Regions from separate parts of the Homo sapiens genome. Here region 1 is linked to region 2. Evidence: fine-mapped expression QTL. A gene starts in region 2. The other region holds a variant in brackets. All regions are shown on one strand. Distances are from middle to middle.

Region 1 (5,378 bases), 34 kb before region 2:
CACGATGAAAGAACCAGAATACCAGCCTCTCAGACTGGAAGGTTCCTGGGCCCTTCCCCCTTCTTTCCTGACAAGGGCAGGTGAGGTTCCCCCATTAGAAGGATCTGGGGCACTGCTTATAAGAGCAGCCTGTTACAAGATTCAAGCACAGAGAGCTATAGGAGTTGAAGTTTGGTTTCTTCCACTTAAAAAAATATATATCCACCCTCCTTACTCAGGGGTAGACCTTTCAAATATTAATAAATAATGCTGTGTGACATCCTGAATAAACGGGTAAGAGAAAACTTGTAGGGCAGGGTGTAACCATGAGGTCCTCAAGTTTCAGGAGATTAAGAACACAGGAAACCCCTGTGGCAATCGTCCCTCTTCAACAATCTCACCCAGTTTTCACTTAGTAATAAAAGACAGCTCAAAACATACAACTGAATGGTAATAGGCTGGACAAAGTTTCTCAACCTGTGGGCCACGGCCATGGGCAGAGCTAGTTACAAAGGCAGATGAAGCTTCATGTCGGACTAAAGGAGTCCGAATTTCTGGTCACAGGACCCAGAACCTGCATCTTTGTCAATCTCCCCACTTTGAATGCACTTTGATGTGAGACCAGCAAACCTGAGCTGGGCTCTGTGGGAAAGCCACTGCATGAGAAACAGTACTGCTACGGGTGTGCTGCAGTCTCCAACGCAGCTACGAACCCACTCCTTTAGTGAGTGAAACTAGTGGCCCCGTGAACAATGACCACATGGCCTAAATTCTCCCATATTCCTATATTCTGTCCTTTGGCCTCAGACACACCTCAGCATCCAAAGGATATCTCCCAGATACTCCAGTATCTGTGTACAACAGCCGCAGAACCTCCTTCCAAGCTCCAAATCAGGCCAGGCATCCTGATTTTTATAACCATACTCATATATCCAGATCCATGACATAACACTAGTTTATAGCCAACACATTTAAATAATTTCCCCACTGGGGCCAGGCGCAGTGGCTCACATCAGTAATCCCAGCACTTTGGGAGGCCGAGGTGGGCGGATGACTAGGTCAGGAGATCGAGACCATCCTGGCTAACACGGTGAAACCCCATCTCTACTAAAAATATAAAAAATTAGCCGGGCGTGGTAGCGGGCGCCTGTAGTCCCAGCTACTAGGGAGGCTGAGGCAGGAGAATGGCGTGAACCCGGGAGGCGGAGCTTGCAGTGAGCCGAGATCGCACCACTGCACTCCAGCCTGGGCAACAGAGTGAGACTCTGTCTCAAAATAATAATAATAATAATAATAATACTTTCCCCATTGGTCTGTGTATGAACATAGGAACCAAGGACACATAGGTCTCATGGCGACCCTAAAATAGTCTGTTCTGTCACATAGACTAGTACCTGTTCCTTCCAAACATGTAACCTTTAATAATTGTGACATTTTGAAATGGGAAAGGGCAAAAAGGAGGGAGAGGGGAGTCATGCTGTATAGACTCTAAAATGTTATGTTTGTTGTTTTTCTTGCTTTGTTTCACAACTTTGAGCCAGAGAGAGGCTAGCATTTTCCCTCCAAGCTGACTCGGGGAAGCTGAAACACAACAAAGACCTATTTGATTTGTTCACAATGAACAGGGATTTAAAAACGCAGCCTTAGCGGACAGCTCTACCAGCCACAGAAAAGTTCTTCCAGATCTTCCTCCCGTCAGCGCGATAAAATGGTACCGTACTTTGGTTAAATGTAAAATCAGCTTTCCAGGAACAGTGGCATATCCTTTCTCTTCCATCAGTTCCCTAGATTCTCTTCATTACTACATTCTCTAGCCTAACATTCCGTCCCTGCTGAATTAACTAATATTCAGATACATTCAAGATAGAACTAACACTCAATTCTATCTTTCCAAAATTTAAGGGGATGATAGGTCTTCACTCACATGGTAACAAACACAGCAGCAAACCCCATAAAACTGAACATCAACTGCCTTCTGGAAGTTCTCATCTGGCAAGCTAGTGCAGGTATCTTGTGCATGGGTCAAGAGAGTGAAGCTCAGAGCACATTGCTTGGCACCCAGCAGGTGTTCAGGACATGTTTTAGCTCAGCCCTCCTAGAAAACTATGAAATAAAATCCAAACAAAAGTATTAAGATTGAAGTAAAAAGATGTTTTTCTAAGAGTATCAATATATGGAAGTCACTTGCCCAGGAA[C/T]AGAATCAAACAAACCAAAACCCAGTAAAATGAGATAGAGAAAAGAAGCGGAAGAAGATCAATGGCAGGTTTTCAACCTCAAAAAGACCTCTTCCAAACTGAATCTGAAGAGGAATGGGAGGAGGCAGAATGAGAACATGAGACCTCTCCTTGGGGCCCCTTTCATGCGCGTCTGTGTGAAGAGACCACTAAACAGGCTTTGTGTGAGCAACATGGCTGTTTATTTCACCTGGGTGCAGGCCGGATGAGTCCGAAAAGAGAGTCAGCAAAGGGAGTAGGGATGGGGCCGTTTTATAGGATTTGGGAAGGTAATGGAAAATTACATGCAAAGGGGGTTGTTCTCTGGTGGGCAGGGGCGGGGGTCACAAGGTGCTCAGTGCGGGAGCTTCTGAGCCAGAAGAAGGAAATTTACAGGGTTAATCACTCAGTTAAGGTGGGGCAGGAACAAATCACAATGGTGGAATGTCATCAGTTAAGGCGGGGCAGGGCCTTTTCACTTCTTTTGTGATTCTTCAGTTACTTCAGGCCATCTGGGCGTATACGCGCAAGTCACAGGGGATGCGATGGCTTGGCTTGGGCTCAGAGGCCTGACATTCCTGCCTTCTTATATTAATAAGAAAAATAAAACAAAATAGTGTTGAAGTGTTGGGGCGACGAAAATTTTTGGGGGGTGGTATGGAGAGAGAATGGGCGATGTTTCTCAGGGCTGCTTCGAGTGGGATTAGGGGCGGCGTGGGAACCTAGAGTGGGAGAGATTAAGCTGAAGGGAGGTCTCGTGGTAAGGGGTGATATTGTGGGGATGTTAGAAGAAACATTTGTTGTGTAGAATGATTGGTGACGGCCTGGATATGGTTTTGTATGAATTGAAAAACTAAATGGAATAAGAAGGAGAAAAACAGGTATAAAAGGTCTAAGAATTGGGAGGACCTAGGACATCTGATTAGAGAGTGCCTAAGGAGATTCAGCATAGTCCTGCCAGCAAAGATTATTTATTTACTTCAAGAGTTAAAAGTGGCAGTTTGGGGATAGCACGAGGAGATATCAGCTGTGATGGCTTGGAGAAACAGTGTAAACTGGCAGTGTAAACAAGAGCAGGGCATGTATGAGTAGTTGAGAACGGAGAATAGGAGTATGACTAGACAGAAGATAGTAGGGATGACAAGTTTTTTTTGGGGGCACAGTCTAAGTTGGTCTGGTGTCTGGAATGAGACTGGGGCCTAATAAAAAGGAGCATCTATACAGGAGCTTAAATGGGCTGTACCTTGTAGCATTCTGAGGACAGGCCTGAATTCTGAGAAGCGAAAGTGGTAAAAGTATTGTCCAGTCCTTTTTAAGTTGGTGGCTGAGCTTGGTGAGGTGTGTTTTTAAAAGACCTTTAGTCCGTTCTACTTTTCTTGAAGATAGAGGACCGTAAGGGATATAAAGGTTTCACTGAATACTAAGAGCCTGAAAAACTAATTGGCTGATTTGACTAATAAAGGCTGGTCTGCTATCAGACTGTATAGAGGTGGGAAGGCTAAACTGAGGAATTATGTCTGACAGAAGGGAAGAAATGACTGTGGTGGCCTTCTCAGACCCTGTAGGAAACGCCTTTACTTATTCAGTGAAAGTGTCTATTTAGACTAAGAGGTATTTTAGTTTCCTGACTCGGGCATGTTGAGTAAAGCTAATTTGCCAGTCCTGGGTGGGGGCAAATCCTGGAGCTTGATGTGTAGGGAAGGGAGGGGGCCTGAATAATCCCTGAGGAGTAGTAGAATAGCAGATGAAACACTGAGAAGTTATTTCCTTGAGGATAGATTTCCACGATGGAAAGGAAATGAGAGGTTCTGAGAGGTGGGCTAGTGGCTTGTACTATAGCATAGCCTGGCTTTGCTGGTGTGTGGCGATTAGGCCTGGTGGAACTGCCATCAAAAAATCAAGCGTGATCAGGGTGAGGAACAGGAAAGAAGGAAATATGGGGAAATGGGGTGAGTATCAGGTGGATCAGAGAGATACAGTCATGGGGGTCAGGTGTGGTATCAGGAATAATGTGGGAGGCCAGATTGAAGTCCCGGCCAGGAACAATGGTAATTGTGGGACTTAACAAAGAGTGAGTACAGCTGAAGGAGCCGGGGAGCAGAAAGTATATGCGTCAGGTATGAGGAAGAAAATAGATTTTGGAAGTTATGAGAAATGTAGAGAGTGAGTTGAGCATAGTTTGTGATTTTTAGGGCCTCTAAAAGTATTAAAGCAGCGGCAGCCGCTGCACGCAGACATGAGGGCTAGGCTAAAACAGTAAGGTCAAGTTGTTTGGACAGAAAGGCTGCAGGACGCAGTCCTGGCTCTTGTGTAAGAATTCTGACCGCACTAACCATGCCTAGGAAGGAAAGGAGTTGTTATTTTGTAAGGGATTGAGGTTTGGGAGATTAATCGGACACGATCAGCAGGGAAAGCACGTGTGTTTTTATGAGAATTATGCCGAGATAGGTAACAGATGAGGATGAAATTTGGGCTTGACTGAAGTAATGGGGGCTGTCTATGAAGTCTTGCAGTAGTACAGCCTAGGTAATTTGCTGAGCCTAATGGGTGTCAGGGTCAGTCTAAGTGAAAGCAAAGAGAGGCTGGGACGAGGGGTGCAGGGGAATAGTGAAGAAAGCATCTTTACGATCAAGCACGGAATAGTGAGTTGTGGAGGGAGGTATTGAGGACAAAAGAGTGTACGGGTTGGGCCCCACAGGGGGGATAGGCAAAACAATTTGGTTGATACGGTGCAGATCCTGAACTAACTTGTAAGGCTTGTCTGGTTTTAGGACAGGTAAAATAGGGGAATTGTAAGGAGAGTTTATAGGCTTTAAAAGGCCATGCTGTAGCAGGCGAGTGATAACAGGCTTTAATCCTTTTAAAGCGTGCTGCGGGATGGGATATTGGCGTTGAGTGGGGTAAGGGTGATTAGGTTTTAATGAGATGGTAAGGGGTGCACGATCGGTCGCCAAGGAGGGAGTAGAGGTATCTTATACTTGTGGGCTAAGGTGGGGGGATACAAGAGGAGGACGCAAAGGAGGCTTTGGATTGGGAAGAAGGGCGGCAATGAGATATAGATGTAGTCCAGGAATAGTCAGGGAAGCAGATAATTTAGTTAAAGTGTCTCAGCCTAATAAGGGAACTGGGCAGGTGGGGATAACTAAAAAGGAGTGCTTAAAAGAGTATTGTCTAAGTTGGCACCAG
Region 2 (5,378 bases):
AGTTTTCCAGGATTCTACCTCTGAAATTGGGGCGTTAAGAGGAGTATTTAATTCCAGGAAATGAAATTCTAGAAACTCCAGCCTTCTTAGAAGTATTTCATGGCAGCTCTGCCTATGGAGTAGCCATTCTTTTATTCCTTTACTTTCTTAATAAACTTGCTTTCACTTTTCTCTTAAAAAACAAAAACAAAACAAATAAAAGCATTTCATGACAATCCTAGCTCCACTTGCTCAGTAAAGATATTTTTAAAATAATATCACATGGACATATTTTAAAACTGCACCTTTATTAGAAAATGAGTATACTTTCAGAAAAAATGAGTTTACTTTCACAAGCTGAAGCTTAAATTCTGTCCAGGTAACCAGCCTCAACTGTAAAAAGAAATCTGAAAGAGAAACCAACGTGCCCTTTTGGGCAGTCATATTGAGTTTCACGTCCTTTCAAGACTGCCTAATTTAAAAATAATAAAATATATATATACTTGGTAATACCTTTAAAAAATAAGTTTGAAGATTTATTCAATCTTCTACTCGTAACCTACTGGTAACGATGCCAGTATGTAAAACACACAGGTTTAACAACAAGAAATAACAGTAGGCATGTCACTTACTATAATGTTTAAAAGGAGTTATGTCAGTATCTTATTTAGGGTTTTTTTTTTAATCAGGAAGAAAACAGGCTTACTTTCAATCTAATAATGTCTTAACCAGGAAAATGAAAGGGCGAGAAGTTCAGAATAACGGCCTCATTTTACCCAATTCCCTAAAAATAAGGTGAAAACGTAGGAAGGTTTGCTTTTGTTTTGAAGAATTCACCTAAAAATCCCCAGGGAACATCTTTTTCATTTTTCCTTAGCACACTCAAGTTTCAAATTCACTAGCTCAGTATTTGAAGAGGACCACTCTTACCTTGCCGCTTTACTCCCAAATTATTGTCCCCAAAAAGTATCTTTTAGGGAAACAAAGCAGCTTCACCTGCAGTCCCACAAACCAATAACAGAATATGATCCTTTCTCAACTTTACTGCCCCCAAACTGCAAGCTCTCAAGATCAACGTTTGCCTCAGTTTTAGCAAAAAAGCAACATTTCACCCAAGAAAATGAAATGGTCTGAAACACGCCTACACGCTGTCCTTTCTAAAACTTTTCGGCGGCGAAGTCCAAGCGCTCACCGCGGTGCTCGGCGCATGAACACAACAGAATCTAAAATTGTTGCCGCTTCACAGCAGCGATACAAGCTACCGGTGGCCTCGGATTGAGGGCAGATTTTTAACTTCTAGCAATTTCCAAACTTTTTCATTGAAATACTCCAACAGCTGAAGAAATTAACTCGGACCCCTCACAGTCCAGAAAGGTTTAACCCAAGCCAAGCTCATCATTTCCAACTTGAAATCTAACCAGTTGTGGAAATTGTGCGTTCCCTCCTCTCCCTGGTTCCGTTTACTGCAAAACCAGAAGCCATGACTCACCGAGGAGGGGACCAGAGCCCCCGGGAGGCCGGGCCATGTTCTCCAGGAGCCGGACCCCAGCCGACCACCCGCGCTTCCCGTCGCCTGCACCCTCCGGCTCCGCGACGCCCGGAAGAGCCCGGGCCTCCCGTGAAGGCCCCCCCGGCGTCCCCGCACTTGGCCTATCGCCCGGCCACGCCCGCGCCTGCAGCCCACAGATGACGCCAACCCGCCCTGCACCCACCCCAAGCACTCCCCACTCCCCGCGGGCCGCCCAGCCCCGGCCCCAGCGTACCTGTACCCCCAGGTGCACAGCAGGGACTGCCTCAGGTGCGAGCGCAAATGCCCCAGCGTCGGCTCCGTCTCGGGCACCTCCAGCGGCCAGGTCCGCTTCAGAAGCCGCACCCGCAGCCTCATGACGGCGGCAGGCGGCCCGAGGGGCCTGGACCCGGAAGCGGCGACGGGGACGGCGGCGGGGCCGAGCAGCTCCCGCCCCAAACGGCGACGACCCCGGACTGGCGACTACCGGAGCTGAGGGGTAGCTGAGGCGAAACGGGGAAAGAGCCCCGCCACAGTGGCCGCCCTGCCACTCGGTCTCTGGAATAGAGCGCCCGCCCCTCTCCTGAGGGCGCCTCCTGGAGCCGACCCCGAGAGCTGGAGGCGGGCAGGCGGCCTAAAGGAACCGGGCCTCTCGGGGTCGGCCGATCGATGACTCCGCGCGCAACGGCGCTGCCTGAGAGCGCGGGCACAGTGCGCAGGCGCCGAGATGCGGCCGCTCGCTGGCATCCCAGATTTTCCGCGGCGGTGGCTGGGACTCCCAGTACTTACTCCCTGTGTGCGTGGAACAACGGTAGCGCTGATAGGGATGCTGCAGACAGACAATACAGTCGCCACTCCCCAGGACCAAGTGTCACCCCCTTTCTTCCGTGGCCCTCAGTTCCAGCGGCATCTGCTCTGAGAAGCCTTAGGTTAATCCTTAGGTTGGCCGGGCGCGGTGGCTCACGCCTGTAATCCCAGCACTTTGGGAGGCCGAGGCGGGTGGATCGTTTGAGCCCAGGAGTTCGAGACCAGCCTGGGCAACATGGTGAAACCCCCCCCCCCATCTCTACAAAAAATACAAAAAATTAGGTGTGGTGGCGCCTGCCTGTAGTCCCAGCTAGTTGGGTGGCTGAGGCGGGAGGGTCGATTGAGCCCGGAGGTCGAGGCCTCAATGAGCTGTGATCGCACCACTGCACCTCAGCCTGGTTCCACAGAACGAGACCCTGTCTCAAAAAAAAAGTAGAACTATTTGTAGCCAGTAATCTATGTCCGACAGTTTATTAGAACTCTGTGGCTGCATAACAATCACCCCAAAGTTTAACGCAATAAACATTTGTTGTCCCACAGGTTTTAGAGGTAAAGGGATTTGGGGATGCGTGGCTGGGTGGTTCTGTCTCCAGGTCTCCCATGAGATTACAAACTGTAGGCCAGGGCAGCAGTTATTGACTAGGGCTGGAGGATCGGCCTCCAGGATGGCACAGTCATGACTGTTGGCCAGAGACCTGTTTTCACCACGTGAACCTCCCCATAGGGCTGTTTGAGTGTCCCCATGACATGGCAGCTGGCTTCCTTCAGAGCAGGTGATCCCAGAGAGACCAAGGTATAAGCCACAATGTCTTTTATGACCTAGCTCCAGAGGTCACATACGGCTTTTGTCATATTTACAAACCAACCCTATGTGTGAGAGGATCCAGCCAAAGGTATGAATGCCAACAGACAGGGATCGCTGCGGGCCATCCTGGAGGCTGGCTACCATAGAGGGTCTAACTAATGATAACTTAGATGAGAGAGAGTATCAAGTTTCGTCCTTGTGTGATAACCATAGTCCAAATCCTTAGAGTCAAATAAAGTTTCTCCCAATAGGTGGCAGCACTTGTCCACATCCTGCCCTTGATTCTGCAAATAAATATGTATTGATTGCCTACTTTGTGACAGATACCCCACATGCTGGAGACTCAAGAGACCAAAAAGACATGTTTCTGCCCATGCAAAGTTTACAGTTGAGTGAATCAGCTCTTTCAGTAGAGTGTAAAAAGTCTCTGCTTTATGATAGACATAAATACAGACCTGAGGAATGGGATTGTTAGAAATGTTTGTTTTTTGATGTTGTAAAGAAATAGCACTTGAATATAAATTTAATTTTTTTAGCAAGGCCATTTTTATTTTTTGTAGAAAGGGTATACTCGCCAGCAGTTTTGTCACGAGAGTACACCGAACAAAGGAGACAGGGTCATATATAACCTGATGTGTCCACTTTACTGCTGTGTCTGGTTTTTTGTTTGTTTTTGTTTTTTTTTGTTGTTGTTGTTGTTTGAGATGGAGTCGCGCTCTGTCGCCCAGGCTGGAGTGCAGTGGCGTGATCTCGGCTCACTGCAAGCTCCGCCTCCTGGGTTCACGCCATTCTCCTGCCTCAGCCTCCCGAGTAGCTGGGACTACAGGCACCCGCCACCACACCTGGCTAATTTTTGTATTATTATTATTATTATTATTATTATTATTATTATTATTATTTTATTATTATTTTAGTGGAGATGGGGTTTCACCGTGTTAGCCAGGATGGTCTCGATCTCCTGACCTGATCCGCCCGCCTCGGCCTCCCAAAGTGCTGGGATTACAGGCGTGAGCCACCGCGCCTGGCCTGTGTCTGGTTTTTATTGGCTGGAATGGGACTTTATATTTTGTATTTGTCTTGATTGGCTAGTAATTTAGAACTTTTTAAAAGAGGCAAAGGCAGAGGAGAACAAAGCAAGGAGGAAGTAACTTGTGGAATGTTGAGAAAGGTCAACACCCCTTTAAGGAAGAGGAATAGGCTATGACTTAATGTTTGTTTGAACTAGTATAAATATGTTAGGGCAAATATTTAGGCTAAATTGTGGGAGTTAAGATTGTAAAGTACATTGATTTTTTTATTATGGCTAGCAGATATTTAAGAATGTTAGCATGGGTGTTTGAATACATTTTGGTTTTAAGAGGGTACATAGAGGAGGTTTGCCATGCCCGTAGGATTCTTTAGTAGTGAGCAGTGAGGAATGGTGCCAGGACCAGGATGACTCTGTGTGACCAGAGTGATGGACAGCATAGGTACATCCCAGATAAAGAAGAGCCTTGGGCTAAGCACAGGGTTTGGGACATATTCTAGAATGTATGGGAAGCCGCTAGACAGTTTTTAGCAGGGAGTCTTTACTATCAGGGTTCTTAATTTTCAGCAGTAGAAGCTGACTCTGGCTGACTAAGCAGAAAAGGTGTGTATTAAAAGGATGCTGTACAGCTCAGGGAATTCTAGGGAGGATGGAGAAGTGGCCCCAGGCTAAGCTTCCAAGAATGAAGCTCAGAACCAAGCTGAAAACTGGCCTGATGAGGAAAATACTAAGACTGGGATTGCTGCTGGAGGAAATCGCCATCACAACTGCTGGGATTCACTGGGGAATGGCTGCCACTGCCACTGTTAACATCAAATCCCACATGCTTTTGCAGCCTCCTGCATAATGCCAAACTTCCAAAAGAGCCTGTTTCTTCACCTTGCTCACTTCCACATCAAAAGCTCATAGGGATGTCTGATTGAGGAAGTCTGGGCCCCACACCTGGGTCCTGGCTACAAAGGAGACTGGGAATTGGGGTCTGAACTCCTTCCTCGGGGAGGCAAGACGTAGAATATTGGAATTTCCTCCCGAAAAAGGGAAGGCTATTCAAAAGATGGTGGGAAGCCTTGAATCTGACAGGTGTATACTAACTACTAGGGCAGGCTCAGATCTGTAATGTGAATCTATCACTAGGGATTATGATAGGATGTGGGGGATAGATTAGGGTTTCTCAGCCTCAGCACTATTGACATTTTGGACCACTTAAGTCTTTGTTGCAAGAGGCGGTTCTGTGTGTAGAATGTTTAGCAGCA

Evidence for each region. PIP is the estimated chance that this variant, and not a neighbour inherited with it, causes the effect. A credible set is the group of variants that fine-mapping cannot tell apart.
Region 1: its variant is the best candidate, but not a certain one, in a credible set for the expression of FBXO7 in tibial nerve (GTEx, PIP 0.84).

What each region holds. Positions count from the first base shown.
Region 1 is chr22:32,505,460-32,510,837 of GRCh38, reverse strand. SYN3 (synapsin III) reads left to right here. Exons shown (of 14, transcript NM_003490.4): 14 at 1-3,018. Among named protein-coding and RNA genes, the nearest start is that of FBXO7, 33 kb to the right of the region's middle. The variant C/T (reference allele first, on the strand shown) is at 2,175.
Region 2 is chr22:32,471,489-32,476,866 of GRCh38, reverse strand. It overlaps FBXO7 (F-box protein 7), which reads right to left and starts at 2,056. Exons shown (of 9, transcript NM_012179.4): 1 at 1,743-2,056. The coding sequence starts at 1,864. RefSeq lists enhancers at 1,540-1,709, 1,295-1,795, 1,964-2,133, 1,796-2,296, 3,022-3,081 and silencers at 1,466-1,775, 1,786-1,975.